4 separate regions of the Homo sapiens genome follow, and regions 1, 2 and 4 are each linked to region 3. The links come from fine-mapping of genetic effects on gene expression. A gene starts in region 3. Each other region holds a variant in brackets. All regions are shown on one strand. Distances are from middle to middle.

Region 1 (8,103 bases), 170 kb after region 3:
CAGCGAGAAGGGCGGGGGCTGCACTGGAGCCCTGGGGGCCCAGCATCCCAGGGCAGGTGCAGGGAGAATCCCTGCTCTTCCACCACTGCCAAAGGAGACCACGAATGGAAGGTCAGATGGTCTGAGAGGCTGGCTGGAGGACACAGGGAGGACTCTGAGTCAGGGAACCCAAAGCAGGAGAAGTCATCACAAACAGAAGCACCCAGCAGGGGCCAGGCACTGTGGCTCACGCCTGTAATCCCAGCTCTTTGGGAGGCCAACGCAGGCAGATCACCTGAAGTCAGGAGTTCGAGACGAGCCTGGTCAAATGATGAAACCCTATCTCTATTAAAAACAAAAAAAACTTAGCCAGGTGTGGTGGTGGGCGCCTGTAGTCCCAGCTACTTGGGAGGCTGAGTCAGGAGAATCGCTTGAACCTGGGAGGCGGAGCCTGCAGTGAGCTGAGATCGTGCCACTGCACTCCAGCCTGGGTGGCAGCGTGAAACTCCATCTCAAAAAAAAAAAAAAAAAAAAAAAAGAAGTACCCAACAGGGTGAGACGCAGCTGAGAAATGGAAACCATGGAATGGTTTTAACTTCACAGAAGTTGATGGGATGTTGGGGTGCGGGTGCACAAGCCAGACTGGACCCAGACTGAAGCTGATTGTGGGTGCTGGAAGGGGACACCAGGTGCTTCTTGGACAAGTTCAGACTGGACAATGTGAGAAGAATTTGGCAGAGACAATGACAGAGTCTCCATGGAGCCTCGCAGCAGTCCTGAGCTCCTGGAATCCACTGGGCTTGGTGGACCCCTTTGTCTCAGAGATATGTCTGGGTCAAAGTCATGGAGGGATCTGGTGGCAGAGTCAGGGGCTTCAGCTTCTCCCTGACAATGGCCTCTAGCTCCTCCTCCAGGGTGTTTAATTATGTGTTTATTCACTCAACAAACATTGAGTGCCTACTGCATGCTAGGTATTGGGTCTTTGGGGAAGGGGGAATTTCAGAGATGTGCAGGAGCCACTTCTAAATGGCCTCGAATGTCAGTGACCACACCCTGGAGTCCTCAGGAGGTGGATATGCAGAGGGCTGCCCTGCAGGGATGGCCTCTGTTAGTGAGATGGACCCAGCTTCCAATGGCCTGGGGTTCAGCCCAAAAGGTTCTGGAAAGCCCTCCGCACTCAGCATCCCCAGCCTTGACTTTTCCCAGGCTTCTCCATGCTGGGCTGCTCCTGCCTGGCCAGAAGATAGGGCCAAGAACATGACCATCCCAGTGCTCTGCAGGGCAGGTGTCCCTGGGCTCTGGGGTGCCCTGAATAGCAGTCTCCTCTCCTGGCCTGGGACTCAGGCTTTCCTTTCCTGATCATGCCACAGCAACAGTGACAACAGCAACAATTTGTTGAGCCTGTGCTATCCATCACTACCCCTCCTCGGGTACCCAGAGCAGCCAGGCCGAGCTCCACCACCCTCTGGACACTACTCTTTGAACAATGAACCCCACAGCCAGCTCATCCCCCTGGCGTGCCTGGTGATGATCTCACCCAGGTGGGACATGCCAGTGTCCCCTACCTCCCACTGCAGCTGTCCCTTGATATCCAAATGATTTAACAATAAGGCTTCGACTTTTGGAAGAGAGGCCCCCACCCCCATGATCCACGTAAACAATGGCACAGATTGGAACAGACAATGGCGAGTTGGGGAGGCATTACCCACAGTGAGCAGGGGAGAGGGGAAAGTGTCCCCCTCTGAGGTTAGGGTCTCTGATTTCACAGACTCACAGTCCTGACTTATCAAGGAGAAGGGACAGGGCAGTCCTGCATGTCTCCCCAAATTATAGCGAGTGGTGGTGGTTTGGGGGGGGCTCAGGGAACATCATGGAAGAAAGCAGGTGGCTGCTGTGGGAGAAGTGAAAGGGGCCCTGGGGCAAGGGTGGTGGCATGAGTCAAGCGGGTGGAGACTAGGGGAGAAGTCGAGGGGGCTGCAGTCTTGGACATCAGGGGTACCCCTGGCTGATTCCATCACTTGGACTCAGGGGCCTCAGGGAGCCATGAGAAGACTGCCGACGGGCAAGATCATCTACAGGCTTCCGCGAATGAGGAACTTCATGGTGGGGATGCTCGGGATGGGTTTCCTTAGGAGAGTAAACCCCGAGAAGTGTGTTCTGGGGAACACCAATCCCATGAAACATTCTTTGTGGTTAATGTTTGAGAGGAGCAGTGGGTTTTCTCTTACCTATGGGAGCCTCACAACACACATCACCATGTTATTATTATTTGTTTTCTGAGACAGAGTTTCGCTCTGTCGCCCAGGCTGGAGTGCAATGGTGTGATCTCGGCTCACTGCAACCTCCGCCTCCCGGATTCAAGCAATTCTCCTGCCTCAGCTTCCTGAGTAGCTGGGATTACAGGCGCCCACCACCATGCCCAGCTAATGTTTGTATTTTTAGTAGAGACGGGGTTTCACCATGTTGGCCAGGCTGGTCTCGAACTCCTGACCTGAGGTATTCCATCTGTCTCGGCTTCCCAAAGGGCTGGGATTACAGGCATGAGCCACCACGCCGGCCACACATCACCATATTAAAAGCTCAGGAAAGTCTTGCAGGAGCAAAACTTTCTTAACATGACTCCCCCAGCATTTTTCCCACTTACTTGGCCATGTAGTCTTTTATTTGTGTGTGGGTGTGTGTCATCCCATTAACATCCCTCAGAGGAACTCCGATCCACACTTCGGGAAGGGCTGATACAGAAGAATGGGCCAAAGTGCGATTTTCAGTTCTCAGGGAGCATCTTGCAGACGTCAGGGGTCTTCCGTGTTGCCCTCTCCCCACCCAGCATGCCACATTAGCCTCTGGTTGGACCCCTGCAGTTCTTTGGCCAAACACCTCAAGCCGTTCTCTGCAGCTCGACTCCAAGCTCTGCCCTTGCCTGGCCCCAAGTGGTGGAAGGATGTGGGGAGGAAACTTACAGGGGCAGGGACGTTTGAAGGACATGTAATCCTTGGAGCAGAACAGCGGAGCCAGCCTGCCCACGGGCACAGCTCTGACTTCTCGCAGGGAAGGCCCCTCCACTCACCTGCGGAGACACAAACAGGCAGGTGTTGGGGGGCCCATGGCGCACCCACAGCCCCTGCAGGCTGGGCGCTCACATCTCCTGAGCTGTCAACCTCTGCGGGAGAGGATGGTCACTTCTTTGAGAGCACGTGCCTAGTCTGGGCAAGGGGCTGGGGGACCTCTGGGCTGTAGAATGGGGAGAGGGACACAGGGGTAGGGCAAGTGTGTGTTGGGGTCCCAGTGGTGGGGGGTGGTGGGGAGGAGATATCTCTCTTGGGTGGATCTTTGGGAATTAGGATCCCAGAGTTCTTCTGTCTCATGATGAAAATGTGAGATCCCACTGCTTCGGACAACTTCAACAGACCATGGCATCATGAGCCACTTGGAACTATCAGGGCTGGGAACACTGAGACCTGGAGAGGTGAGGGGCTAGTTCAAGCTCTCACAGCTGGCTTTTGAAGGGTGTTCATTGACACCTAGCCCAAACCATATTATTATTATTATTATTATTACCCCAACATAAATAAGAGGAGGATGCTCTTTTCATCCCCATTTTATAAACAAGGAAGTTGAGGCTCAGTGGTTATGCAGCTTGCCCAAGGGCACACAGCTTCTAACTACTGGCTGAGACTTGAGTCCAGATCAGTTTGACTCCAGAGCCCACACTGTCAGCCAGCACAATTCTTTAGAAGGCATCTGTATATTAAATTACCGATTCAGAAACAAAGGCCTACAGAATGAAAATGCTTCTTTCCCTCTCTCCCCGCCCCCCAGTATGAACCTGATGAACAAGTGGATGTCTAGAGCAGTGAGGGAGGGCCAGGTCACTTTGACTCCAATTTGCAATGGAGAAAACATTTTAAAAAGGTAACTCATGGCTGGGTGCAATGGCTCACACCTGTAATCCCAGTATTTCGGGAGGCTGTGATGGGAGGATTGCTTGAGTCCAGGAGGTCAAGGCTGCAGTGGGCCATGTTCACACCACTGCACTCCAGCTTGGGTGACAGAGTGAGACCCTCTCTTTAAAAAAAAAAAAAGGGGCTGGATGCAGTGGCTCACACCTGTAATCCCAGCACTTTGGGAGGCCGAGGCGGGCAGATCATAAGGTCAGGAGATCGAGACCATCCTGGCTAACACGGTGAAACCCCGTCTCTACTAAAAAAAAAAAAAAAATACAAAAAATTAGCCGGGCATGGTGGCAGGCGCCTGTAGTCCCAGCTACTCAGGAGGCTGAGGCAGGAGAATGGCGTCAACCTGGGAGGCGGAGCTTGCAGTGAGCCGAGATCATGCCACTGCACTCCAGCCTGGGTGACAGAGCGAGACTCTGTCTCAAAAAAAAAAAAAAAAAAA[G/AG]AAAAGAAAAAAAGTAGCCCATTCTCCCATGTTGCTGAAGATCTGAATTGGTTCATGTCTCCCAAGGGACATGAGGCTGTAGGAACAGGAGAGAGATAAGGTTTTTATTTCTAGGGAGTGTGGTCACTTGCCTTGCAGAAGCGAAACTGCACCTGTGGGCATTGGTGAGCAGAGATCATGAGTGCCAAGCCCTGTGGGCTTTTGCAGGGCATAGCTGGCAGCCCTAAAGCCAATGGGAAAAGAGTTTGCCCCTGCAGGGGTCATGAGGGGGTATATATCCCTCATCCCTAAAGCAAATTGAGGCTTGCCATCCCTGCTTGGGAGGGGCTAAGAAGAATATGAGGACACCAAGGCTCAGAGAGGCAAAACACTGCCAAGAATTGGCAGAGCTGGTATTAGCACTGAAGGATTAGACTTTTGAGCACAGACTCTCCAAAGACAGTTCTCTGATTCACGTTAAATAGAAAAACCAGTTATTTTGGCCAGGCGTGGTGGCTCATGCTTGTAATCCCAGCACTTTGGGAGGCCGAGGCAGGCGGATCATGAGGTCAGGAGATCGAGACCATCCTGGCTAACACAGTGAAACCCCATCTCTACTAAAAATACAAAAAATTATCCAGGTGTGGTGGCATGTGCCTGTGATCCCAGCTACTCGGGAGGCTGAGGCAGGAGAATCGCTTGAACCTGGGAGGTGGAGGTTGCAGTGAGCCGAGATCATGCCACTGCACTCCAGCCTGGGTGACAGAGTGAGACTTTATCTCAAAAAACAAAAACAAACCAGTTATTTCTCAGTGCACTTTGGCTGCATTTCCCTACAAGGAAGCCTTCTGGGCACTGGGGCCTCCAGCTGTGGCTCACATTCACCAAATACCTGCATGTGCCTAATGTCACCAATGGTATTGCAACAGACTTTTGAGGTGGGGGACATCATTTCCATTGTGCAGATGAGAGAACAGGCTCAGGGAAATAACCCATCCAAGGTCACAGAGAAGAGATGGAGGAAGAGCTGTGTGCAGAGGGACTCTCTCACCCCCAGTGCCTCTCAGTTACTGCCAGGGACACCCCCAGAGACCGGCTGCCCTGATGCTCTGGCTGGCCTGCTTCCTAGACACCCTGGGCTGATCATCCTTCTGGGCTGTTCCCTCTCCCTAGCATGCCATTCCTTCCACTTGGCAAACTCCTATGTAGCTGTCAATACCCAGATCAAGACACCTCTTCAGTGAGGTCCTCCTTGACTGGTGGAGACAGAATGATCACTCTGGCTGTGTTTCTGTCACACCTGGGTGCCCTTCCAGGACAACTCCGGATCTAAATTATTCTAGACCAGTAGCTCCTCGAGGGCATGGAGGGTCAGTGTGGCCTCTGCAAACTAGCTCAGGGTTGGGAACGGAGGGGAAGTTCAAAAGTGCATGGAAACACTAGAGCAAGCCAACCTCAGCCTGATGCAAGCGCACGACTGAGGGGTGGAGGCTGCCTTTCAAAGGTGCTTGGCTTGCTGAAGAGGAGGATCTCTATGCAAAAAGCTGAGATGCTTCCCAGGCATCTTGTCACCATTGGTGACCACGATGCCAACAGTAACCCGGGCTGCCACTCCCTGCCTCCTGCAATGCCATCAGCACTTTAAACACAGCCTCCCGCTGCAACCTCCTAGCACCCCAGGCTTGCATCCATTGATTCATTTCCCAAGCACCTACGCGGTGTCCCACAAAACCCTTGGAAAACACATGGAGGGACTTTGGGGGGTCCTAAAATAGGAGCTGGACTTTCAGCCTGGCTGCCTGTTTCCTTCTCCCTTCCCCCACTCCAGGATTTCTGCCGGAGGACCCAGAAGAAAACCACTCCCTGGTGGCATCAGACCCTCTGCTAGGGTAGAGCTTTGTCGGGGTCATCAAGACAAAGGAGCTGGGTGTGGGGGCTCCAGGTAAGCAAGTGCCCATCCTGGTGTCCCGCACGCATGTGACTGAAGTTGCTGAGAGGAGACAGCCATGAGGGGCACAGATGGGCTGGGACTGTGGTTCCTTTGCCAGGGGTCGGGGTCGGGGTTGGGGTCGGGGTCGGGGGCAGGCCCACCCCAGCTGCTAGGCCAAGCGTGGTCACCTCTTCCCCTGCCCGCCTCTCTTTGAGCCCAGCATGCGAGGCTCGCTCCTGCCAGTGACTCATCTCCTACTGGATTGTCTGGCTGGGAACTCGAGGGCGGGCTGGTGGCACTCCAGGCTTTGAAGTGGCTGAATGGTGTGTGGCAAGTCCACGTCATTCCCACTCCCCTTCATGTCCCCGCTCCGGGAATATCTCCACTCTGGGCTCTGCTGTGACACTCAGAGTTGGGCAGGGGAGCATGTGGCTAAGGGGAGAGAGCCTGGGTCTGCTGACGCGCCAGTGTCTGGGGATCCTCATGGCAGAGGCTTACAGAGCTGGAAGGCCCCAGGAGCGGCCAGCCTCACACCATGGGCGGCAGACAGAGATAGGCTGTGGGGGTGGGCTGGCCTTGTGAAAGAGGCCACAGGATGGCCACCTGTTTACACAGCCTCTGCTCAGTTGCTGCCACATGCTGTCAGCTTACTGGATCCTCAAAACAAATCCCCAATTCACAGATGACAACACTGTGACTCAGAAGAATAAGGGGCCCGATGAGGTGGTGAGCCCCTGCCCCAAGAGGGTTCCTAGGAGGATTTGAAGCAGGATTGCTCAGCTATTCTCTCTTTAGGAAGGTGGAGGGGGCGCCAGGTGAGGGAAACAGGAGGCAGGGAGCTTGGGAGGCCGTGGCCAGAGGTGATGGGGCCTAAACAAAGGCAACGGTGACTGCAGAGGAGGGGCAGAGGCTGCCATCACTGGTTCAAGTGTTTATTGAAAGTCTCGGCTGAGTGCAGTGGCTCACGCCTGTAATCCCAGCACTTTGAGAGGCCAAAGAGGGCGGATTACTTGGAGTTAGGAGTTAGGAGACCAGCCTGGCCAACATGGTGAAATCCTATCTCTACTAAAAATACAAAAAAATTAGCTGAGTGTGGTGGTGTGCGCCTGTAGTCCCAGCTACTCAGGAAGCTGAGGCAGGAGAATCACTTGAACCCGGGAGGTGGGGGTTGCAGTGAGCCAAGATTGCACTACTGCACTCCAGCCTGGGCAACAGAGGGAGACTCCATCTCAAAAATAATAAAAATAATAAAAATAAATAAATAAATAAAATAAAGTCCCTGATGCAGCAGGTTTTAGGTGCTGGGGACAGACTGGTGAGCCACACTTTGACAGTCCCTTTCTGACTAGGACTGGAGATGCAATGGTAATGGTGAAGTCTGCAAGCTAACAGTACAGGAAAAACAGAAGCAGTGTGTGCAGGTGGGAATTGCACTGTTAGATGGTTAGATACAGCGGCTGCAGAAAGCCTTGGTGAGAGGGTGCAGGTAAGCAGAGACTGGAGGAAGCAAGCTAGGTGGGCAGATACCTGGGGAGAGAGGATTCTGGGTACAGGTAGCAGAGAGGGCAAAAGACCCTGGGCGGGAACACCCTTGGTGGGTTTTAGGGACAGATGGATCTGATAGAGAGGGTGAGGAAGAAGGAGGAGTGTAAGGTGATTCCCTGTCTGCCTGGGTGACCGGCAGATGGTGGAGATGGGAGAGATGGTGACTCCAGGTCTTGATAGCTCAGACAATCACTGTGTCCCTGGCACTCAGCATGGTGCCTGGCACATAGGAAGTGCCCCGTGACTGCTGAGTGAAGGCATGATGCCATGTCACA
Region 2 (8,103 bases), 82 kb before region 3:
AATAGCCAGGACTACAGGCATGTGCCACTATGCCCTGCTATTTTTTTTTTTATTTTTGTAGAGACGAGGTCTTGCTATGTTGCCTCAAACTAGAGGCTAATCTCGAACTCCTGAGCTCAAGCAATCCTGCTGTTTTGGTCTCCCAAAGTGCTGGGATTACAGGTGTGAGCCACTGCGCCTGGCCTGGAAATGTTTAAATGCAAATTTTAGCTCAGCTGATTTTGATGTCTCTTAATCTCATCGAATCTGGGTTCCTCAGTTGTACAGTATGGGTAGTAATGACTAATTGACCATTTTAGGAATTGTAAGAATTAAGAGGTTAATGTTTGATAGTTGCTTTCTTACGTAACTCAAAAACAAATGTGAGTATTTGCACTTCAGGGGTGGGTAATGGCATCTCTTTTATTTGGTGGAAACCTTGTTAGTTTTTTAAATCTCAAGCCAGTCAGCACAATCCCTGGCTGGTTACTGTTCTCTGGAGGATGTGCAGGGGTGGGGCAGTAATACATTATAGAAATCATATGCAACACAAATATAGCTACATTTACAAAGCTGCAACTTTGAGAAATGACTGGCTGTAGACATAGCACTGAGCTTATCAGCCCCAAATCCCCTCAGTTCTGTTGGAGGGGCTGGTTCAACTGAGGTTCAGCTGGGTTCCTGATTCGTAAGAGCTGGTCAAATGACCAGGCAGACACACAATGACCCTGGTCAAACCGTGAAGGGTTCTGCGTTTTGTTTACTACTGAAGATTCCTTTGTACTTCTGGCTCCCATTTATCCCTGAAGTCATGCATATACAAGCGCATAATGGTAGATGAAGCAGTGGGTTTCTCTATGTTGGATTCTCAGATCCACCATTCTGTGGCTCCTTGTAAAACAGTCCCATTTTCCTTTAGGAAGATTGTTATCTTTAGGAGTTGTCTTCCTGATCAAGGACTTGGAGTCAAATAAATTCTGGCAGAAAAGCAAAGTTATAATTACTCTTAAGTTTTTTTGATGATTAAAAATAGTGAAATTATAATCCACGATCTCAAAAGAAGTTGTTAAATGTAGAGCGTACATGTGTTTTACAAAACCACACAAAGACAGTTCAAGAAAATGATACTACAGACCAATATTCCTTATATGAACACAGACACAGAAATCCTCAACAAAATACCATATAGAAAATAAAACCCAGCATAATGGAGAAAGAATAATACACCAAACCAATTTGATTTATCCCAGGAACAAAAAGGTTGGTGCAGTTTTTGAAAGTAAATGTTATAGGTGTACACCATATTAATAACTTAAAATAACAGGCCAGGCACAGTGGCTTATGTCTGTAGTCCCAGCACTTTGGGAGGCCGAGGCAGGTGGATTGCTTGAGCCCAGGAGTTCAAGACCAGCCTGGGCAACATGGTGAATCCCCTTCTCTACAAAAAATACAAAAATTAGCATGACATGGTTGTGCATGCCTGTAGTCCCAGCTGTAGGCTAAGGTGGGAGAATTGCTTGAGCCCAGGAGGTCAAGGCTGCGGTGAGCCGCGATCGTGCCACTACACTCCAGCCTGGGCAACAGAGTGAGACCGTTTCTCAAAAACAAAACAAAACCCAAAGCCACATGATTCTATCATTTGATGCAGAAAAAAAAAACTTTTGACAAAATTCAGTACTTTTCCATAATAAATGCTGTCAGCAAACTTGGAAGAGAAAGGAACTTCTTCAACCTGAAAAAGGGCATCTACAAAAAATCTACAGCTAACATTATACTGTAATATATAATGTTACAGTGGGGAAAGAATGAATGCTTTCCCCCATGATGGGAAACAGGCAATGATGTTTACTGTTACCACTCATATTCAAGATCATACTGGAAGTCCTAGCCGTTGCAAAAAAATTAATAGGAGACGTACAGATCAGAAATAAATAAAACTGTCCCTATTCGCATATGGCATGATTAGGTAGATAATCACATGGGAATCTATAAAAAACCTCCTAGAACTAATAAGTGAGTTAGCAAGGTTACAGGATATAAGGTCAACACACGATAACCAATAGTATTTTTATATCCTAGCAATAAATCATTGGAAATTAAAACAAAAAAACCAATATCAGTTATAACAGCACTCAAAAGAATGAAATTCTTAGATATAAATCTCACAAAACATGTATAGAATCTGCTCACTGAAAACTACAAAACACTGAAGTAAGAAATCAAAGATGACCAAAATAAGTAGACAGGCATTCTGTGTTCATTAGGATTGGAAAACTCAATATAGTTAAAATATTAGTTCTCCACAAATGATCTATAGGTTTAATACGATCCCAAAATCCTAGCAAGGTTTTTTTGTAGATAGAAGAATGCTGATTCTAAACTTTATATTAGCCAGGCAAAGGGCTAGTGATGGTTTATGGAGGTATGTTCCAGGGAGAGAGAACAATGACATGAAGTCACCCTTGTTTAGGGTAGAATGTGTGTGTGTGTGTGTGTGTGTGTTGAGGGGAGTGTTTCTGAGAGTATGATGGACTTCGTATCTCTTATCGGCCATGAGACTTTTGGCAAGCTACTTGTTCACTCAGGCCACAAGCAGATCTCCTGCAGGTCTCTCACTTGGGGATTGTAAGTTGGGGATAATGGTAGTATTACAGTGCTGGTGAGCCCACCATGCTCCCTAGCTCAGCGTCTCAAGACACCACGTCATCAAAGCCTGTTGGAGGTTGCTATGGTCTGAATGTTGGCATTCCCCCAAAATTCAGATGTTGGAACCTAACACCCAGTGTGATAGTATTAAGAGGTGGAGCCTTTTGGGAAGTAATTAAGTCATGAGGGCTCAGCCCTCATGAATGGGATTAGTGCCCTTTTAAAAGAGTTTGAAGGGAGTGTCCTTGCTCATTCTGCCATGTGAGGACACATAGAAAGTGCCGTCTGTGAAGAATGGGCCCTCACTCAGATACTGAATCTGCTGGCACCTGGATCTTGGAGTTTCCAGCCTCCAGAACTATGAGCAATAAATTTCTATTTATAAATTACCCATTTTGGCCAGGCGCGGTGGCTTACACCTGTAATCCCAGCACTCTGGGAGGCCGAGGCGGGCAGATCACAAGGTCAGGAGATCAAGACCATCCTGGCTAACACGGTGAAACCCGGTCTCAATGAAAAATATAAAAAATTAGCCGGGTGTGGTGGCAGGCGCCTGTAGTCCCAGCTACTCAGGAGGCTGAGGCAGGAGAATAGCGTGAACCCAGGAGGCGGAGCTTGCAGTGAGCCAAGATTGCGCCACTGCACTCCAGCCTGGGCGACAGAGCGAGACTCCGTCTCAAAAAAAAAAAAAAAAAAAAAAATTACCCTTTTTACGGTATTTGGTTATAGCAACCAGAACAGACAACAGACTGATAGTGATACAGAATATCTCTGGAATGATACAAGTTGGGGAGCTGGGTGGCCGAGGGCCAGGGTGTCAGGGAGACATTTTCTGCTGTATAACTGTTTGTACCTTTTGTATTTTATTTTATTTTATTTTATTTTTGAGACGGTCTCGCTATGTTGCCTAGGCTGGCCACAAACTCCTGGGCTCAAGCGATCCTCTTGCCTTCAGCTCCCAAAGTCCAAGGTTTACAGGCATGAGCCACTGCTCCCAGCCCTTGAATTTTGTACCACATGCAAGTACCTTCTATTCAAAAATTACTAAAATAGTAGATGTTACTAGCTTTACCTTAGTATAGCCTTAAAGCTCATATACTGACTGTAATCTTTAACTTTTCATGACTTTCTTTGTAATTTGGAGGCCCTTGGGAAGAATGATTTAGATAATACAGACCACTTGGACAAACTTGAAGCTTAAATTGTTTTAAAATGCACTTTTCTGTAAAAAAAAAAAAAAAAAA[AG/G]CATTCTGCACAATAGTGGGTGCTTAATAAATTTGTTGATGCTAATGGAAAACTTCTTCCATTTGAAAGGAATTTACCCTCATTTGTTAGTGAAAATGTTGTAACATTAAAGAAAATTAGAAATTAGAAAAATAATCATCGTATTATGACAGACTCAAATGAAAAGGACTTGGAAATTTTTTCCTTTCCAAAGGCTACATATGATCCCCTGTGGCAAAGTCTGGTGATTATGTTTTCTAGTTTTTTTGCTATTAGGAAGATGCGTCAATAAATGTCCTCATGAGTGTAGCCTGGATTCTTCTTTTGAATTATTATTTTTGGTTAAATTTCAAGGAGTGCTTTTACTACATCAAAGGACAAGACCACCACATTTCTGAACATTTAAAAAAAAAATACAGACTTGGTTGACATTTCCTCCCAAAGCATATCTGAAGGTCTCAGTTTATTCCAGGTTTCTAGTATGCTTACCCACAAGTACAGACAACTGGGAAATGGTGACCTCTGTAAGTCCTAATGGCTCCTCCTGGACCACAGGGCTAAATTAATTCTTTCTCCACAACTTTGGAGGAACTTTTTTTTTTTTTTTTTTTTTGAGACAGAGTCTGACTGTCACCCAGGCTGGAGTGCAGTGGCGCAATCTTGGCTCACTGCAACCTCCACCTCCTGGGTTCAAGCAATTCTCCTGCCTCCGCCTCCTGAGTAGCTGGGATTACAGGCGCCTGGCTAATTTTTGTATTTTTTGTAGAGATAGGGTTTCCCATGTTGGCCAGGCTGGTCTCGAACTCCTGAGCTCAAGTGATGTGCTCATCTTGGCCTCCCAAAGTGCTGGGATTACTGGTGTGAGCCACTGTGCCTGGCTGGAACTTTGTTGTTTTTTTTTTTTTTGGAGACGGAATCTTGCTCTGTCACCAGGCTGGAGTGCAGTGGTGCGATCTCGGCTCACTGCAACCTCCACCTCCTGGATTCAAGGGACTCTCCTGCCTCAGACTCCCCGAGTAGCTGGGACTACAGGCGCGTGCCACCACGCCCAGCTAACTTTTGTATTTTTAGTAGAGACAGGGTTTCACCATGTTGGCCGGGATGGTCTTGATCTCTTGACCTCGTGATCCACCCGCCTTGGCCTCCCAAACTGCTGGGATTACAGGCATGAGCCACCATGCCCGGCTCCAGAACTTTGTTCTTAATTAGAAATCAGGCCAGGCGCAGTGGCTCATGCCTGTAATCCTAGCACTTTGAGAGGCCGAGGTGGACAGATTGCCTGAGCTCAGGAGTTCGAGACCAGCCTGGGTAACGTGGTGAAACAAGATCTCTACTAAAAATACAAAAAATTATCCGGGTGTGGTGGCCTATGCCTGTAGTCCCAGCAACTCAGGAGGCTGAGGCACGAGAATCGCTTGAACCTGGGAGGCGGAGGTTGCAGTGAGCCAAAATTGCACCACTGCACTCCAGCCTGGGCAATAGAGTGAGACCCTACCTCAAAAAACAAACAAAAAAGAAATCAGTAAGAATCTTTCCCAGGTTATGGCACTCCAAAGGATGCTTAGAGGTAAGGACAGGGCTGTGTGTCAGGATGCTTCTCTCTCGGTAGAATGAATGCATACCTGGGTGCCTGGGAGAGAGCTCTTTCCAGCCTAAAGTCGTGCTGTACAGACTTGAGCTGCACCACACGTGTGGCCTACCCCATTAAGGACTGAGGTATGTCTGGAAGCTGGGGTTGATTTTTTTTTTTCTTCCCCCACAGCAGTCTTCCCTGAGCCATTGAAATAGCCTGGAAATACCAGCATGGAGTTTTCAGCCTATAGCTGTTATCACTGACTCTCGCATCCTTGTTTCTGGAAGTAACCCCAAATGCTTTTGCAGGATGACATGGGATTCCTTTGGAAAATAAAGTTACTTATTAGAGAATAGAGCAGAAGGGATCACAGATAATAAATTTTCCCAGACAGTCTCAATTTCCTGTGCTGCCTCATCAGACCATATATAAGTATAATCCTAAATTTTAAATAATTATTTTACTATAAATTGTGAAGTATTCTAAGCATTGAAATTACAGCAATTCATGTGACAGTACCCGTGTGCTCACAATATACCCTGATATTTTTATTTGGAAAATAAGGTGATTCCTGGAGAACAGGCTGTGTGTACAAGAGAAGTAACATGCAGGGTGAGATGAGATGGGATTTGGGTTCATTAGCCTCAGGGCTCCAGGAAGGAGGAAGGATATAGACTGGGAGAGGTGGAGAGGAAGAGAGCAGGGAACCCCTGCTCAGGGGGATGGCTTCGGCCTGTCAGCTGACTTAAACTTTGACCTCAGTTTGAAGTGGTCCAGGGCTCTAGAGCAGGGCTGCAGCAGGCTGGAGAAGAGGCCAATAAGTAGAAGGGCTCAAGCTCAGAAAGTGACACCTCCTGGGGGAGAAGATACTGCTTGTTTAAGTATTTGGAAACTATCCTATTTTTAAACAGTTTAACTTCTTGATGGGGGAGGATTTTTGTGAAAAATTCTCAACTTAAAGCAGTGGGTTGGGGGGTGTTCAGGCTTCATTGCAGTGCCTCTCGTGTGTGGCCTTTTCTCGAGATGGGGGCTATCACTGGTTTTCAGAGTGGGGTCCTGGGATCACTAGAGTTTATTAAGGTAGTAATGGGGGATTGAGAGAAAGAGGGCTGAGGGGTGCAGTGGCTCATGCCTGTAATCCCAGCACTTTGGGAGGCTGAGGCAGGCAGATCACTTGAGGTCAGGAGTTTGAGACCAGCCTGGCCAACATAGTAAAACCCAGTCTCTACTAAAAATGCAAAAAAAATTAGCTAGGCTTGGTGGTGGGTACTTGTAATCCCAGCTACTCGGGAGGATGAGGCAGGAGAATTGCTTGAACCCCGGGAGGTGGAGGTTTCAGTAAGCCGAGATCATGCCACTGCTCTCCAGCCTGGGCGACAGAGGGAGATTCTGTCTCAAAAACGAAAAAAAGAGGGCCTGGGTACTAATTATATTTCAAACAGTCTATACTCTAAACCACAGTAAGCAGAATAAGGCAGATTTCTGCTTACATTAAGCAGAATGAGGTAAAATTTCTTACCTCTGGCTGGAATTTTATAATACCGATTACTTCAGGTTGATCAGGAGCTTTCAGTAAGCTTTTGATTAATATGCACCTGCCTTCGTCTTTGCACTCAGGGTTTATTCTCTCATCCCTCACTCTCTTCCTGAAAATGCCCGCTTAGCTATTTTTATTTTTTAAATTAGGCAGCCTCCTGCACCGGAATAGGCTCAGAGAGATTCCCACTTGGCTCTGTTCTTCTGGTTCCCGCTCAAAAGAGACCTTCCCTATCCCCCCACATCTGGAATAGAACACTCCCCCACCCCACTCTGCCTTACTATTGACCCCTGTCACCCTGCTTGATTCTCCTCCAGAGCATTGACCATCCAGCTGGAAGGTCAGCTCCATGAGAGCAAAGACTTGGCTTTCAAGTTCCCTGCTGTATCCCGTGTCTAAACCAGGGTCTGGCACATAGGTGTTGAATAGACAGTTGAATGTATGTGTTTGTTTAATAAAAGAAAAAAAATGGGCCGGGCGTGGTAGCTCCCAGCACTTTGGGAGACCGAGGCAGGCGGATCACGAGGTCAGGAGATCGAGACCATCCTGGCTAACATGGTGAAACCCTGTCTCTATTGCAAATACAAAAAATTAGCTGGCCGTGGTGGTGGGCGCCTGTAGTCCCAGCTGCTCGGGAGGCTGAGGCAGGAGAATGATGTGAACCCAGGAGGCGGAGCTTGCAGTGAGCCGAGATCACGCCACTGCACTCCAGCCTGGGTGACAGAGCAAGACTCCGTCTCAAAAAAAAAAAAAAAAAAAAAAAGAAAAGAAAAAAATGGGTTATTAATGTAGTTTGTAAGGTCAAGTTTTTGAAAACATGGAATCCATGGGGAAAATTTATATATATATATATATGTATATATATATACATATGTATATATATATATACGTATATATATATACATATATATATATATATACACACACACACACACACACAACTAGACTCTATTTGAGGTGGAAAATATTGGAGAGAAACTATGGAAATAAAATGCCATCGTAATTACTTTTTCTTTTTTTAACTTTAAGTAGACTATCTACTGCTACTAGGAAACAGAAGATTTTGCTTAGGAGACAGATTTTTGTAAAAGTTGGGGAAACCATAAGAGGCTTTGCCAATCTTTTTGCCTAGAAAAGTGTAAAA
Region 3 (8,096 bases):
TAAGATGGGGACACAGAGGGTGCAGCCCTCCTGAGGCAGCAGATGCTGGATATGAAGTCAAGAGACAAGGGTTCAAGTTGAGCCTTTGCTGCCCTTTCTCTAGGACACATTTCATTCAGCGAGGTCCACTGGGGTCTGGGCCCTCACAGGTGATAAAACGAGGTCAGGGTTGCCGATGGCTGAAGTCTGGGTAAGCCCTGCAAGTCCTCAGTTAACCTGTCCTGCCCACGTGGAAATGGCTTGAATTCCTGTGGCGGCAGCTCATTCCTGTAGGCCCGGTGGGGAGCACCGGCGCCACCTGGTGGCCAGAGACCCCTCTCCGGGTTCCCTGCCTCACAGACCTGCTCTAGAGGCACCACAGCCCACTTGAGGTCACAGGGCTGCTGAGTAGTGGAGCTGGGATGATCTGAAGCTGGGTCTCTCCATCCAGTTCTAACCAACTGCAAACTCCAGCACACTAGAGAAAGGATAAGGGCCCAAGTGCACGACTCTGGACTCCTCATCTGGCCACTTTGTGCAGGGCACCCCTCCCTCCTGGGGCCCCTGTCCTCACCATCATGGGCCAGCACAAGCCCTGCCACTTGTCATTCAGCTGCATGGCATCAGCAAAGAGGAAGTACAAGGCCAGCAGGAACTCCAGCAGAGGCGCTGTGAGGAAGGCAGATGCTGAGGACGCCACATAGCAGATAAAAGTGATGAATGAGAGACCCTGCGGGGAAGGAGTTTGAGGTGAAGTCAGAGCCTTTTCATGTTCCTTGTCCAGTGCTCCTCTGAGCCAGGCCCTGTGGTCAGGATAGAGGAGGTTCCAGCAGGGGAAGCCAACTGCTCACAGTCCCGCAGCTGGGAAGTGGCAGAGCCAGATTAGAATCCCAGGCCAAGCACAGTGGCTCACACCTGTAATCCTAGCACTTTGAGAGGCCCAGGCAGGTGGATTGCTTGAGCCCAGAAATTTGACCCCAGCTTGGGCAACATGGCAAAACCTCATCTCGGCAAAATATACAAAAATTAGCCGGGCATGGTGGTGTGTGCCTGAAATCCCAGCTACTTGGGAGGCTGAGGTGGGAGGATCACCTGAGCCCGGGGAGGTCGAGGCTGCAGTGAGCTGTGATCAGGCCACTGCACTCCATCCTGGGTGAGAGAGAGAGAGACCCTGTCCGCACCCGCCCCTACAAAAAAAAAAAACCCAGCATGGCCCAGGCTCACACCTATGCTGCCTCCCAGTCCTGGGCATGGCCCTGAGTCCTCACCTTACCCCACCCCAGCTCCCTGACAGGACCTAGTCAGAAAGCCCCAGCCTTCCAAGCACATGCACTCCACTCAGTGCCCTGCGGAGGGAAATCAAAGCGAGGCAGGAACCAGTTTCCAAAAAGTAACACCCAACACCAAAGACGTGTGCTCGTCACTGAATGTAGATTTCACCTTGAAAAGAAAAAACCTTGAACCTTAATGATATGCGTCCTGAAGTGTTCAGAGTTGAAATGTCCTGATGTCTGCAATTTATTTTGTGTTAAAAGATAAAATGCCTTGATGGACAGATAGATAAAGCAAAAAAATCTTTTGGAGTTTTAATGTATTTGCAAATTTTCATAATGATAAGAAAGGAACATCTAACAGAGGGTGCGTTGGCACTGACACCTCAGGCCCTGCTGCCTTATTCATACAGGGCCAGCTGTGAAAGGTGGGGCCAGCTGTACTTGAACTACAAGAATCAAAATGTTCACTGTGGTCTTGCCCACAACTCTGTAGGTGGGAAGAGCTGATGCAGGAGGATGTTGAGCCCTGGGCAGTCCTGCAGCCCAGGTACGCTGCAGAGCAGGCCAAGGTGACCTGTTGGCCAGCCTGGGGCTCCACAGTGCCTGGTACCCTGAGGCTCACGGGCATCTCCTCTGACCCTCACATCCACCCATGAGCACAGCCCCACTTGACAGATGAGAAGACTCTGTCACATGGCTAATCAGAGGCTACTAGAATTTGAACCCAGGGCTGGCTGACCCCCCAGATAGAGTTATCTTACCTCCGCCCCAGAGATGGAGTCTTGCTCCGTCTCCCAGGCTGGAGTGCAGTGGCACGATCTCAGTTCACTGCAACCTCCACCTCCGGGGTTCAAGTGATTCTCCTGCCTCAGCCTTCCCGAGTAGCTGGGATTACAGGCGCCCGCCACCAAACCCAGCTAATTTTTTTATTTTTAGTAGAGACAGGGTTTCACCATGCTGGCCAGGCTGGTCTCGAATTCCTGACCTCAGGTGATCCACCCACCTCGGCCTCCTAAAGTGTTGGGATTACAGGCATGAGCCACCACGCCCGGCCCAGGTAGAGTTCTTAAGCAACTTGGCCCTGTGGGTGTTGGGGAGGCCATCTGTCCCTGGTTTCTGTCACTGTGGCTGCGTTTGAACATGTCTATGGCTGAGTAGTTTCTAGTGGGTGCAGGAGTCCCCATGGGGACACCCAGATGCCCCACAGGAAGCACTGTGGCTGCTTCAGACAAATGAACTGCAGGGATCCCAGGGGGTCCCCAGAGCACCCCCATTTGCTCTGCACATGGCCTTGGGTGCAGCTGAGCCCCCTTTGGAAAGATAGACTAAGGCATAGAGACGGGCTGGGAGGCTGCTGGGGCCTCCCAGGAAGGCCTTCCATGGGACTGACCCAGCTCTGGCCCTCCCCTTCCTGTCTCCTATGCCTGCACCCCAAAGCCTAATTCTGGGGATTCCCCTCTCAATTCCTGTTTTTTCATCCCGCGATTTCTGGGGCCACTTCCTCTCTCTGTTTCTGTCCATCTCAGCCTCTGCACTTGCTTGGCCTGGGGGTGGGAGTGAGGGGACTAGGGAGGCAGGAGTGCCCTCAGCGGCTCCTGTGAACCCTGAGTGCTGACCGTTCACCCTTCCTTATCCTCCCTGACCTGGATTCCTGACATCTGCTGGGCCCAGGGTGGCCTCTATGCTCCTGCTGGACATATGCCTCCCTCTTATGAGGTGGTCTTGGGTGGGGATGGGGGGGTTCAAGCCACTCTGGGGACGGTGGATTCGAGGCTTCTCCCCTCAAGTGGCTCCCAGTGGTCTCCAGGGTGGGGCTGGGAGTGTGGGCTCGGAGTGTGGCATTGGTGTCTCACTTGGGCGTTGGGCAGGTGGCCTCTGGGCTGACCGTGGGAGAGGCTGCAGGACCACCTTCTGCCCTCTGCCCTGAGTGACCAGGGAGAGGTCCCGGAGCAGAATCCCCCTTCCTCCTGCCCCCACCCTCCTGGCCGCTCTCACTGGGCCCCTCAGTTGAGCCACCTGTCAAATCAGGCGCCTGAGCGCTCTCATCTGTAAAGTGGGGACAAGGGCAGGAAGCGCCAAGTTCCTGGGATCTAAGCAACAAGTGGCCGCCGCCGTGCGCCGCTCTCTCCTCCCGCCTCCCCCGGTCTCCGGCCCGGCCTCTCCCTCCCCATCCCCAACGGCCCAGCGCCACCCCTACCCCACAGCGGACAGTGCGGGCGCCTCCGGTGTCCAGAGGACAAAGAAGCCCCACCGGCCGGGGTGGGGGCGAGGGCGGAGTAGGAAGGAGCCCGGCCGCGGAGGGGAGGAGGGCGATGAAGTCACCGCGGGGCCGCCTCACCCAGTCCCGGGGGTGGGGGATCCCTCCCGCTCCGCACGGCCCCCCGCCGGCTCGGCCCCGCAGGTCGAGGCCCCGGCCCGCACTACCCGCTCGCAGGAAAGCGGACCCCGCTGCGGCCCGGGAGTCCCGGAGGTCCGAGTTGCCCGAGTCCCCGGGGCCCAGAGAGGGCGGGGGCGCCTGGCTCACACAGCAGGACCCACATCCCCGGGCCCCACCCACTTCCCACGGCCCCCAGCTCTGGACTCGCGGGGACAGCGCCGCGGATGGCCTGGGCTCGGGCCCCGCCCCGCCGTCCAAAGTTTGGGGACCTCGACCCAACTTCGCCAGGCGCCCGAGAGAAGTCGGCCGAGGCGGCGCGGAGAGGGGGTATCGGAGCACGGCGGCCGCCCCCGGACCCCACCCGCGCCCCGACGTCCTCCTCCGAAAGGAGCCGCGCAGTCCTAGCGGGGCGGCCGAGGGTCCCGCCGCACTCACCGACTCGGCCAGCAGGAGGCGGCCTTTGAGAGAGCAGAGGAAAGCCCGCGCCGGCAGCAGGGCGCGGAGCCCGGGGACCGCGGGGCCGGGACGGGAGCCGCCGGCAGGCTCGGGGTCCGGGTCGGGGTCGGGGTCTGGGGGCCACATGGCGGCGGCGGCGGTAGGGCCGGGGCTCGGCCTGGCTCCCCTCTTCTCGCGCCCGGAGGGAAGCGGAAACCCGGGCTGTGCGGAAGGAGGGCAGGCGACACTGGCTCGCGCAGGGGCGCATCCCCCGCCGCCACGCCCCGCCCCGCCCCCACCCGCTCCTCCAGCCCGCCCCTCCCCCTCGGACCCCGGCTGCGGGGGATGCTGGGCCCGACCCGCCCCCTCCCCGGCCTGGGGCCTCCGCAGACTCCACCTTCTTCTTCACCCTGGTTCGGGCCGCTGGAGACCTCCCGATCACCGCCCCGGCACCCCTTCGGAGCTCCCACCCGTCTGCCCCTATCCAGAAGGGCTGTCTATACTCGCTGTCTCCGGTCTAACTTCCTGCCCGTGCGCGTGTCTGGGATCCGGGAACCCAGGCGTCTAAACAGCAAAGACCCCGGCCGTGATGTCGGCTCCGCAACCCATGCCCTCTCTTTTTCTTGGGGGCCGGAGTTTTCTTGCGACTTTCTTGGCCACCCCTCCTGTCCCCGGCCAGCCCCACCCTCCTCCAGGGCCTCTTTGTTGGCTGTTCCAGGCCTCGGTCCTGCACCCGCCTCCCCCAACCCATTCTCAGAGGACTCTCAGACCTGCAAGCGCAGCTCCAGGCACACACACAGACACACACACACGCGCGCGCGCGCGCAAACACACACAGGCACGCACATCTGCAGGACTTCCTGACCTGCAGTCCCCCCACCCCAACACATCTCTCTCTCTCACACACACACACACACACACTCCACACGCACATGCGTGCACATCTAGAGAGCGTCTGGAGTTCAGCGTGATCAAGACCCAGCTTCCTGTGCCTCTGCGAAGGGCACTGCCCCCTCCTTTCCTTCCACCTGACTAGCGGAGACCTGCGGGTTGTCCTTGTCCCTCTTCACCGGCAGTCTGTAACCAAGGTCCTCCCACTTTCACCTCCTATAACTTTCTCTGATCTCTGTCTACTTCTCACCACCACTAGATCCGAAACCATTCCTGCCTGCTCCCCGCTGAACTGCTGTGATGGTGTCTTTAAGAGGCCCTTAGGTTTTCTCTCTGGGCAGCCGGGGGAGAGCTTATGGCACAGTACTGCGCACCCTTGACATAACTAACTCCATCTTAGAAAAAGACTTCATTTTATATTTCATAGGGTGCTTTGCCAACAAGGGCAAGATGTTTTGTTTAATAAAAAATAGAAGGTCAGGCGCTGTGGCTCATGCCTGTAATCCCAGCACGTTGGGAGGCTGAGGTGGGTGGATCACGAGGTCAGGAGTTCGAGACCAGCCTGGCCAATATAGTGAAACCCCGTGTCTACTAAAAATACAAAAATTAGCTGGGCGTGGTGGCACCGTGCCTATAATCTCAGCTACTCAGGAGGCTGAGGCACAAGAATCGCTTGAACCCGGGAGGCATAGGTTGCAGTGAGCCAAAATCACACCACTGCACCCCAGCCTGGGCGACAGAGCAAGACTCTGTCTCAAAAAATAAAAAAAAAAATAAATAAAGACTGCGTCCAACCACATAAGGACACAAAGAAGCACACTGTTCCTCTACCATTTCTCACCAGAGCACTCTGTGACTACAAAACAGCAGCCCAGCAGCCTTAACTGACAACCATCCCACTGCCGTTCATAAGAACTCTGCATCTGCCTCCCAAGGCTCTGCCCCTCAAAGACTCTGCAAGACCCTCAAGCCCAGACCAGGATTCCTTTTGTCTTCTTCCTTACCCTGGAACTGGTTCCTTAACCCTTTCTCCTATCTCTTTTTCTCTTGATGTTAAATGCTACTTTGTTTGTTGTGGAATGTTTATAACATTTACATGTGGATTAAGTATACTATTATATATGGTTTGCAATATTGACTGACTTGTGGAGTGGCTTGAGCCCATGTGCTCACTACTGAGTGAACGGGAAGTACTAAGGAAAATTGGCTCCTTGGGTCTGGGTGCAGTGGCCCATGCCTATAATTCCAGCATTTTGGGAGGCTGAGGCAGGCAGATCACCTGAGGTCAGGAGTTCGAGACCAGCTTGGCCAACATGGCGAAAACCCATCTCCACTAAAAATACAAAAATTAGCTGGGCGTGGTGGCACAGGCCTGTAACCCCAGCTACTTGGGAGGGTGAGGCATGAGAATCACTTGAACCCAGAAGGCAGAGGTTGCAGTGAGCTGAGATCGCACCACTGCACTCCAGCTGCACTCCAGCCTGGGCGGCAGAGTGAGACTCTGTATGAAAGAAAAAAGAAGAAGAAGAAGAAGAAGCAAATTGGCTCCTTGGGATAGCTTGTGGCTTTTGTTTTTTTTTACCCTTGGGTATAGGGTGAATAAAAATCTGACACTGTGGAAAGACACAAACACGTGTGGACCTAGTTATCTCTTTTTTCTTTCTTGAGACAGAGGCTTGCTCTGTCACCCAGGCTGGAGTGCAGTGGCATGATCTTGGCTCACTGCAACCTCCACCTCCCAGATTCAAGGGATTCTCATGCCTCAGTCTCCCAAGTAGCTGGGATTACAGGCCTGTGCCACCACACCCAGCTAATTTTTGTATTTTTAGTAGAGACAGGGTTTTGCCATGTTGGCCAGGCTGGTCTTGAACTCCTGGCCTCCAACAATCTTCCCGCCTCGGCCTCCCAAAGGTTTGGGATTACAGGCGTGAGCCACCGCACCTGGCCAGACCTGATTATCTCTTGACCTTGTACCACTCATGACAATCACCAGTCATTGATCACTTTTGATGGCAGCCGTGGCTCCAGACAACCTGCTGCTATCATCACCCAGCTGCAGCAGGGAGGCATGGCCTGGGCTGCACACTCCATGGAGCAGGCAGGAGTCCTGCTCTCCCAGGTGCAGCTGCAGCTACCCAAACTGCAGCTGCAGAATGGGGCCTCCTCCATGGGGCAGACAGGAGCCCTGGGACCCCCTTTCCCACAGCTACAGCTGCCCAAACCACAGCTGCAGGCTCAGGCATCCCTGTACTCTTAGGGGCCCAGGAAGGCCCCCACCTGCCCTCCCAGGCTCGGAAGTGCCTTCTCCTGCTGCCTGGCTTCTTCCTGCTGTGGACACGTGCTCTGATCTGGGAGCAAAGTTGGGGCAAGCCTGGGCTTCATGAATGGCAGCAGGAGGCGGACAGATTCCTGGGTGGAAGGGGGCAAGTCCCATTGAGGCCCCACCTTTGGGCCAGGGAGGGCCTGAAGGCTGGGGGCCAGGCTGCCAGTCCGACCGACCAGAGTGGGAACTTGTACCTCCTTTTCTGACCCACCCATGGCTGCCCATAGATCAACTGGGCTCACACTTCCTCCACTCTGAGGCCCATAAAAGCCCCAGTCTCAGCCAGAGCTGAGCAGAGGTTGGGAGGACCAGGTACAGAGAGGAGCCACACTCTCCAGGGCCTCCTCTCTGCTGAGAGCTGAACACTCAACGGGATGACCTCCCTACAGAGAAGAGCTACCCACTGTCAGTCTCCTCTGAGCTTTCTAACACTCAGTAAACCTCCTTGTTGACTTGTTCTCCCTCCACTTGTCTGTGTACCTCATTCTTCCTGGATGCAAGACAAGAACTCTGGCAAAGGTGCCACTGGCCACAGAGGTTTCCAACCAGAAAATTAACACCCCAAAGATCCTGTAACACTTCCATCTCCTCCCCACAAAGATAAACACACACACACACACACACACACACAGACACACACACACACACACACACAAACCATGGGAGCTTCCCAACCTGCACAGGGTCTTAGTATAGAAGGAAAATATAACTCTTTGCTGTGCTTCCCTCCCCTGCCTCTCCCATGGACCTCTTACAGTTCCTGGAACAAACTATGGTCCCTCCTGCCACAGAGCCATTGTCCATGCTGACCCCTCTA
Region 4 (8,094 bases), 950 kb before region 3:
TTGGGCCACAGCACTCCAGCCTGGGCAACAAAGCGGGACTCCATCTCAAAAAATAATAATAAATAAAATAAAAGATGGTAGGGTTCCCAGAGCATGTTTATGTGCCATTGGGAGGGATATGGTGGGGAAGAAAGATGGGTGATCCAGGAGAGAGGAGGCTTGCTTGACCTATATAGGAGTGAAATCCATCAGAAGATATAAGGAAACAGGGAGGGTTGACCTTGGAGAGGAACAGGGATGCTTCCATTCATGATAAGGGCAACAAAGGTGAAGACAGATGCAAGTGCAGGGGAGAGGGAAGGCAAGTCCTTAACAGGATTGCCTTGGTGGCATTGGGTACTCATCTGAGGTTTGTGATCATGATGTTAAAGGTAAACCAGTTGGCCCAGTGTGTTGGTTTTTCTCCAACATTCAGCTGCTTGGGTACAGACATGAAGAAAAGGGATAGTACAGCTTCTCAACACCAGGACCCAATTTTTCTCATTTCTTTTTTTTTTTTTTGAGACGGAGTTTTGCTCTTATCGCCCAGGCTGGAGTGCAATGGTGTGATCTCAGCTCACCACAACCTCTGCCTCCTGGGTTCAAGCGATTCTCCTGCCTCAACCTCCTGAGTAGCTGGGATTACAGGCATGCGCTACCACCCCCGACTAATTTTGTATTTTTAGTAGAGATGGGGTTTCTCCATGTTGGTCAGGCTGGTCTTGAACTCCCAACCTCAGGTGATCCGCCCGCCTCGGCCTCCCAAAGTGCTGGGATTACAGGAGCGACTCACCGCGCCCGGCAAGTTTTCTCATGTCTAATCCCAGTTACTTACCTTATACAATTAGATACTATTTTAGAAATGTGTGAAGTATTTGAAAAATTTACACGTGACCCTTCTTTTTCTAGAAACCAAGTTATCCCATTTGCCTCTTATGTACACATTAGGACTCAGACATAAAGAAAAGACAAACTCAGAGGAAAATTACCAAACAGATGCTTCTGGAATATTTGCATTTTGCATTCTCCTCAGCCCAAATAGTTCCTGGTATACTTAAGAACTTATGTACTAGAAACAACAAAGCTGACATGCACATAGGGAGACCTTGTTTATACAAAAAATTTAAAAATTAGCTGAGTGTGGTGGCGTATGACTGTAGTCCCAGCTACTTGGGAGGCTGAGGTGGGAAGATCGCTTGAGCCCAGGAGGTCGAGACTACAGGGAGCCATGTGTGTGCCACTGTACTCCAGCCTGGGTGATGAAGCAAGACCCTGTCTCAAAAAAATAAAAAATAGGCCAGGCACAGTGGCTCATGCCTGTAATCCCAGCACTTTGGGAGGCCAAGGTAGGTGGATTACTTGAGCCCAGGAGTTTGAGACTAGCCTGGGTAACATGGCAAAAGCCCATCTCTACAAAAAATTAGCTGAACATGGTGGTGTGTACCTGTAGTCCCAGATACTTGGGAGGCTGAGGCAGGAGCATCACTTGAGCCCAGGAGGTTGAAGCTGCAGTGAACCCCGATTGCACCACTACATTCCAGCCTGAGTGACAGAGCAAGACATTGTCTCAAAAATAAAAAAAAAATTAAAAGCTGACTTGCATTTAAACTTTAGATTTTCTTTCTAGTAACATTAATAAGCTAATTAGTTCACTTTCTCAAGATTTTACTTCAAATCACCTTCCTTTTTTTTTGTTTTTTGTTTTCTTTTTGTGGAGATGAGGTCTCACTGTGTTGCCCAGGCTGGTCTCAGGCTCCAGCAATTCTCCTGTCTTGGCCTTCCAAAGTGCTGGGATGTAAGCCACCACACCTGTCCCCATCTTCTTTAAGAGTAGACTACAGGAACACCTTCTAAAGCTTTTATGTAGGCAAATATGAAGCAGTGGATTTATTTTTTTATTTTATTTTATTTTTAGATGTAATCTCACTCTGTCGCCCAGGCTGGAATGCAGTGGCTCGATCTCAGCTCGCTGCAACTTCTGCTTCCTGGGTTCAAGCAATTCTCCTGCCTCAGCCTCCCGAGTAGCTGGGACTACAGGTGTGCACTACCACTCCTGGCTAATTTTTTGTATTTTTAGTGGAGACGGGGTTTTGCCATGTTGGCCAGGCTGGTCTTGAACTCCTGATCTCAGGAGATCCGCCCACCTCAGCCTCCCAAAGTCTTGGGATTACAGATGTAAGCCACCACACCCAGCCTGAGGCAGTGGATTTAGAGGGAAAAAAGCCTCAATTATATTTATGATTATATTTACAACTATATATTAATTATATTTATAACTCTATGATCTCTGAGGCATCAAAAGCCAGGAATGGGGTCCAAGTGGCCTTGAAGCCTGCTTTCTGAAGACAAGGACCCTATGTACTGCTCTCACATAGGGCTGAGAAAATGCGAAGGATCACTAAGGAAGGAAGAAAAGAAAATATTTTCTGGCTGGGCGTAGTGGCTCACACCTGTAATCCCAGCACTGTGGGAGGCCGAGGCAGGCGGATTACCTGAGGTCAGGAGTTTGAGATCAGCCTGGCCAACATGGTGAAACCTCATCTCTACTGAAAATATAAAAATTAGCCAGGCGTGGTGGCACACCTGTAATCCCAGCTACTCGGGAGGCTGAGGCAGGAGAATTGCTTGAACCTGGGAGGTGGAGGTTGCAGTGAGCCGAGATTGCGCCACTGCACACCAGCCTGGGCGACAGAGCGAGACTTCATCTCAAAAATAAATAAACAAACAAAATATTTTCTTGTCTTTATGGTAAATCTTGATGTGTCCTACTTTATGGAGTCAGCTCCAAAGATGAAGGAACAGAAGGCCAAACAAAAGGAATAGAATGTTTGAGGCTGGAAAGAAACAAGCTGAGGGAAAATATGATGACAGGCTGTGAAACAGTTGAGGTGATAAAAATAAGGCTAGGCTGGGCACGGTGGCTCATGCCTGTAATCCCAGCACTTTCAGAGGCCGAGGTGGGCGGATCACTAGGTCAAGAGATTGAGACCATCCTGGCCAACATGGTGAAATCCCGTCTCTACTGAAAATACAGAAATTAGCTGGGTGTGGTGGCGTGTGCCTGTAATCCCAGCTACTCAGGAGGCTGAGGCAGGAGAATCGCTTGAACCTGGGAGGCGGAGGTTGCAGTGAGCAGAGATCGCACCACTCCACTCCAGCCTGGCGACAGAGTGAGACTCTGTCTCAAAAAAAAAAAAAAAAAAGATCTGGCCTTGAGCCTCACGTACAGGACCAGAAACCCAATGTGGTTTGTACCCTAAGAGCAGATTCCTTCCTCGGGGATTTGTCAGGCTCACAGGCGCTTGCTAGATAAGCAGAGTGCTGTTAACAACGGGCAAGTGGACCAGTGTCCTCGTGCTGGCAAAAGGCATATTGATCCCCTATAGGAGAGCATTCGGGGAAGCCAAATTACTAGAAATATTTGATGAGCAGTTAATTAGATTAACTAGTGTTAGTTATGTAACTTAAATGTTTAATGTCACCCTCTCTGGATGCTAGAATTAGATTGTTCGGGATTCAAGTCTAGTCTTGGTTTTTTATTAGCCGTGTGGTCTCTGTTGAATTCGTAACAACTCAACTATAGATTTCTCTTCTATAAAATGGGATGATAGGTTGGGCGTGGTGGCTCATGCCTGTAATCACAGCACTTTGGGAGGCCAAGGCAGGTGGATCACCTATGGTCAGGAGTTCAAGACCAAAAATACAAAAATTAGCCAGGTACGATAGTGGGTGCCTGTAATCCCAGCTACTCAGGAGGCTGAGGCGGGAGAACTGCTTGAATCTGGAAGGCAGGGGTTGCAGTGAGCCGAGATCGCGCCACTGCACTCCAGCCTGGGTGACAGAGGAGACTCTGTCTCAAAAAAATAAATAAATAAAATGGGATGATCATTGTGCTTGATACAGCCATAAGGATTAGACAAGAAATAAAGCAGCTTTTTTTTTTTTTTTTTTTTT[TG/G]AGACAGGGTCGCATTGTCCACTGTTGCCCAGGCTGGGGTGTGGAGTGCAGTGGCGAACTCTGCTCACTGCAACCTTTGCCTCAGCATTCTGAGTTGCTGGGACTATAGGCGAGTGCCAACACACCTGGCTAAGGTTTTTTGTTTTTTGTAGAGATGGGGGTCTTACTATGTTGCCCAGGCTGGTCTCGAACTCCTGGTGTGAAGCAATCCTCCTACCTCAGCCTCCCAAAGTGCTGGGATTACAGGCATGAGCCACTGCACCCAGCCAGAAATCATTATCCTATGATTCTCAGGAGAACAGTTGTATTTCCAAGATCTTCCTTGGCTCCTATTGTTACCCCTGTAAAGCTTGCAATAATTATGATCATTTACATGTTTTTTAAAAACTCTTTAATCAAGATAATCAACAAACGAAGGGGAGACATATTGATTTTCTAAGACATAATGAGCAGGGAATCTTCCTGCCCTCCTTGGGGTAAGGCCTAAAGTTACATGTGAACACTCTGGTTTTCTCTATACCTGTTGAGAACATGTGTGAGACATGATGCAGCTCATCAAGTAATTATTGAATACTTGGTGTGTGTAGCTTCCTGTTCTAGGCACTGGAGATTCAAAGATGACTCACGATGTGTTTCCTGCCCTTGGACTCAAAATTTAACTAGTAAAACTGGTTAAAACAAACACACAAAAAATTAATGCAATAACTGTTATAGTGGAAAGAAATGAGCTCACAGCTAAAGGAGTAAATCACTCCAGGAGTATCTCATTTCAGCTGGGTCTAAAGGATTAGCAAAGCATTAACAAGTGACACGAAGACATGTAAGGTGAAGAGCCATGATCAAAGGCATAAAAGTCTACAAGAGTATTTGGGGGACAGCGAGTCATCTTACACCATTGGATGAGGGTGTAGAGTAGTGATGCTAAACCTTTAAAGACATTTGGAAAGCTTTCATTGTCTGCCAACATCAACTGCCAAGCCTAACCACTTCTAACATTTAAATTTTTTTTTTCCCCAAGATGGAGTCTTGCTCTGTTGCCCAGCCTGGAGTGCAGTGGTGCAATCTTGGCTCATTGCAACCTCTGCCTCCCAGGTTTAAGCAATTCTCCTGCCTGAACCTCCCAAATTGCTGGGATTACAGACACGCACCACCATGCCCAGCTAATTTTTGTATTTTTAGTAGAGATGGGTTTCACCATGTTGGCCAGGCTGGTCTCAATCTCCTGACCTCACGATCTGCCTGCCTCGGCCTCCCAAAGTGCTGGGATTACAGGCATGAGCCACCAAGCCCGGCCTATTCTAACATTTTAAAGACTCATCCTTCCATATCATCTCCTGCCTAGACTGTAGGAGTTTTTTTCCTTATTAATGTCTGCTTTCTTCAGACCCCTGTGAAAGCCTTATTTATTTATTTATTTATTTATTTATTTATTTATTTATTTATTTATTTTGAGACGGAGTTTTGCTCTTGTTGCCCAGGCTGGAGTACAATGGCATGATTTTGGCTCACCACAACCTCCACCTCCCGGGTTCAAGCAATTCTCCCGCCTCAGCCTCCCAAGTAGCTGGGATTACAGGCATGCGCCACCATGCCCGGCTAATTTTGTATTTTTAGTAGAGACGGGGTTTCTCCATGTTAGTCAGGCTGATCTGGAATTCCCAACCTCATGTGATCTGCCCACCTCAGCCTCCCAAAGAGCTGGGATTACAGTCGTGAGCCACCACGCCGGCCTATTTATTTATTTATTTATTTTGAGGTGGAGTCTCGCTGTGTCGCTCAGGCTGGAGTGCAGTGGCGAGATCTCGACTCACTGCAGCTTCCGCCTCCCAGATTCAAGCAATTCTCCTGCCTCAGCCTCCTGAGTAGCTGGGACTACAGGTATGTGCCACCATGCCCAGCTAATGTTTTTGTATTTTTAGTAGAGATGGGGTTTCACCCTGTTAGCCAGGATGGTCTCGATCTCCTGACCTTGTGATCTGCCCGCCTCAGCCTCCCAAAGTGCTGGGGTTACCCCGGCCAGCCATATTTATTTTTTACCTCTCAGCTCAAATGACTGCTCTTAAAGGTATAAAGGACTGTTGCTAAACCTATATCCAATGTTTTAGAAGTTGATTTTGTTTTCTGTGCTGTTACTTACTTTTCCAAACATGCATGGATCACCCTTTATAATCCATCTCTATATTTTTCATTTTGCAAAACACCTTCATGTCTGCCTTTTCAAGTGATGCTCACAGCTCTATTTGATCAGCCAGGCAGTTTTGTCCTAAATTCAGAAATGAAGTGACTTGCTCAGGGTTGTCCGGCAACTTGTTGGCAAAATCAGAATGAGTACAGTAGTCTCCCCCTTGTTCACAGCTTCACTTTCTGCTATTTTCTGCTATTGGTTACACATGGTCAACTGCAGTCTGAAAATACTAAATGGAAACTTCCAGAAATCATGTTTCGAATTGCACACCATTCTGAGTAGAGTGGTGAAATCTCACAACATCCTGCTGCATACTGCCTGGAATGTGACTCGTTCCATTGTCCAGCATACCCATGCTGTATATACTACCCACCTATTAGCCACTTAGTAGCCATCTCAGTTATCAGATTGATAACACATACTATATATAGGATTCAGGACTATCCTTGATTTCAGACATCCACCAGAGAGCTTGGAACATATCCCCCATAAAAAATGGGGGACTGTAGGCTTGGTGTGATGGCAATCACGGCCTATAATCCCAGCACTTTGGGAGGCTAAGGTGGGTGGATCACGAGGTCAGGAGTTCGAGACCAGCCTGACCAACATGGTGAAACCCCGTCTCTACTAAAAATACAAAAATTAGCTGGTTGTGGTGGTGTGTGCCTGTCATCCCATCTACTCAGCAGGCTGAGGCAGGGGAATCACTTGAACCTGGGAGGTAGAGGTTGCAGTGAGCCAAGATTGCACCACTGCACTCCAGCCTGGGCGACAGAGCGAGACTCTGTCTCAGGAAAAAAAAAAAAAAAAAAGATGGGATCTCACTCTGTCACCCAGGCTGAAGTGCAATGGCGTAATCATAGCTCACTGCAGCCTTTAACTCCTGGGCTCAAGCAATCCTCCTGAGTCGCTAGGACTACAGGCACATGCCACCATGTCTGGCTAATTAAAAAAAAAAGAATTATTTATAGAGACAGGGTCTCACTATGTTGCCCAGGCTGGGAAGGGCTTTAATTGTGGAAACTTCAGGCTCTCAGGCAGACAGCAGAGGTATTTAGGTGATGACTTATTAATCTACAAGTATGTCCTGAATAACTGCTTAGGACCCAGGTCTATGTTCAAGGTTAGGTACTACCAGAGATAGATAGAGGATGTCCCTAGCCCTCGAGTGCCTTCTATTTCGTTTTATATTAGTGTGGAAATATCAGACTAAACCTTGAGTATTAGAAGGTAAAAGTCAAGGATGAAAAGGGAAGTGTAAAGGTATAGGCTACAGGTGTGGAAGGAATGGAGCGGAGCAGTCACTGGACATCACAGTAGTCATATGAAACCGCATGCTAAAGCGAGCATGACTTTCAAGCCTCTGCTTCTAGCCTTTACCCACTCTGGCCCAGGCTACTCTTGCTTCTTTTTTTTTTTTTTTTTTGAGATGGGGTCTCACTCTGTTGCCCAGGCTATCAGGCAGTGGTGCAGTCACAGCTCACGCAGCCCTAACCTCCCAGGCTCAAGTTATCCTCCTGCTTCAGCCTCCTCAGTAGCTGATGCTACAGGTGCACACCACCGTGCCCAGCTAATTTTTGTATTTTTTGTAGAGATGGGGTTTTGCCATGTTGCCTAGGCTGGTCTCAAACTCCTGAGCTCAAGCAATCCACCTGCTTCAGCCTCCCAAAGTGCTGGGATTATAAGCGTGAGCCACCAGGCCCAGACTCTTGCTTCTTCTAATGTAACTGCAGGCTCCTCCCTGCTTCCGGCCTCCTCCCTCTCACAGCTGCCAGAGTGACCTTCCCAAAGCACACACGTGATCACAAAACCCCCCTGCTTCAAGCCCACTGGTGGCTCCCCGGTACCCTGGGATAAATTCCAAACTCAGCCACTCCACAAGGCCTCCCATGCTCACCAAGCCCCTGCTCACCCCCTCAGCCTCATCTCTAACTGCCCCCTCTGGCCCCTGGGGATTCAGCTTGCTTGCTTCCTC

Alleles and levels. Alleles are on the strand shown, and positions count from the first base shown. SD is a standard deviation of normalised expression in the study named. Not every link is listed here.
In carriers of allele AG in region 2, the expression in whole blood of the gene that starts at base 4,314 in region 3 tends to be higher than with G alone (moderate effect, 0.63 SD a copy in TwinsUK).

What was found. PIP is the estimated chance that this variant, and not a neighbour inherited with it, causes the effect.
Region 1: its variant is fine-mapped to the expression of CMTM3 in whole blood (INTERVAL, PIP 0.94).
Region 2: its variant is fine-mapped to the expression of CMTM3 in whole blood (TwinsUK, PIP 0.95).
Region 4: its variant is fine-mapped to the expression of CMTM3 in whole blood (INTERVAL, PIP 0.91).

Annotation. Positions count from the first base shown.
Region 1 is chr16:66,432,538-66,440,640 of GRCh38, reverse strand. BEAN1 (brain expressed associated with NEDD4 1) reads right to left here. Exons shown (of 5, transcript NM_001178020.3): 2 at 2,940-3,046. The coding sequence starts at 2,964. Among named protein-coding and RNA genes, the nearest start is that of BEAN1, 9.3 kb to the right of the region's middle. The variant G/AG (reference allele first, on the strand shown) is at 4,375.
Region 2 is chr16:66,682,906-66,691,008 of GRCh38, reverse strand. The region is part of intron 1 of CMTM4 (CKLF like MARVEL transmembrane domain containing 4); the gene reads left to right. Among named protein-coding and RNA genes, the nearest start is that of CMTM4, 9.8 kb to the left of the region's middle. The variant AG/G (reference allele first, on the strand shown) is at 3,870.
Region 3 is chr16:66,600,922-66,609,017 of GRCh38, reverse strand. It overlaps CMTM3 (CKLF like MARVEL transmembrane domain containing 3), which reads right to left and starts at 4,314. Exons shown (of 5, transcript NM_181553.4): 1 at 4,066-4,314; 2 at 554-709. The coding sequence starts at 4,212. It also overlaps a transcript of CMTM4 not described here. RefSeq lists an enhancer at 1-18 and silencers at 3,310-3,529, 3,590-4,429.
Region 4 is chr16:67,552,543-67,560,636 of GRCh38, reverse strand. All of the region lies in intron 1 of LOC124903703 (a long non-coding RNA gene), which reads left to right. Among named protein-coding and RNA genes, the nearest start is that of CTCF-DT, 5.7 kb to the left of the region's middle. RefSeq lists enhancers at 7,440-7,939, 7,940-8,094. The variant TG/G (reference allele first, on the strand shown) is at 3,934.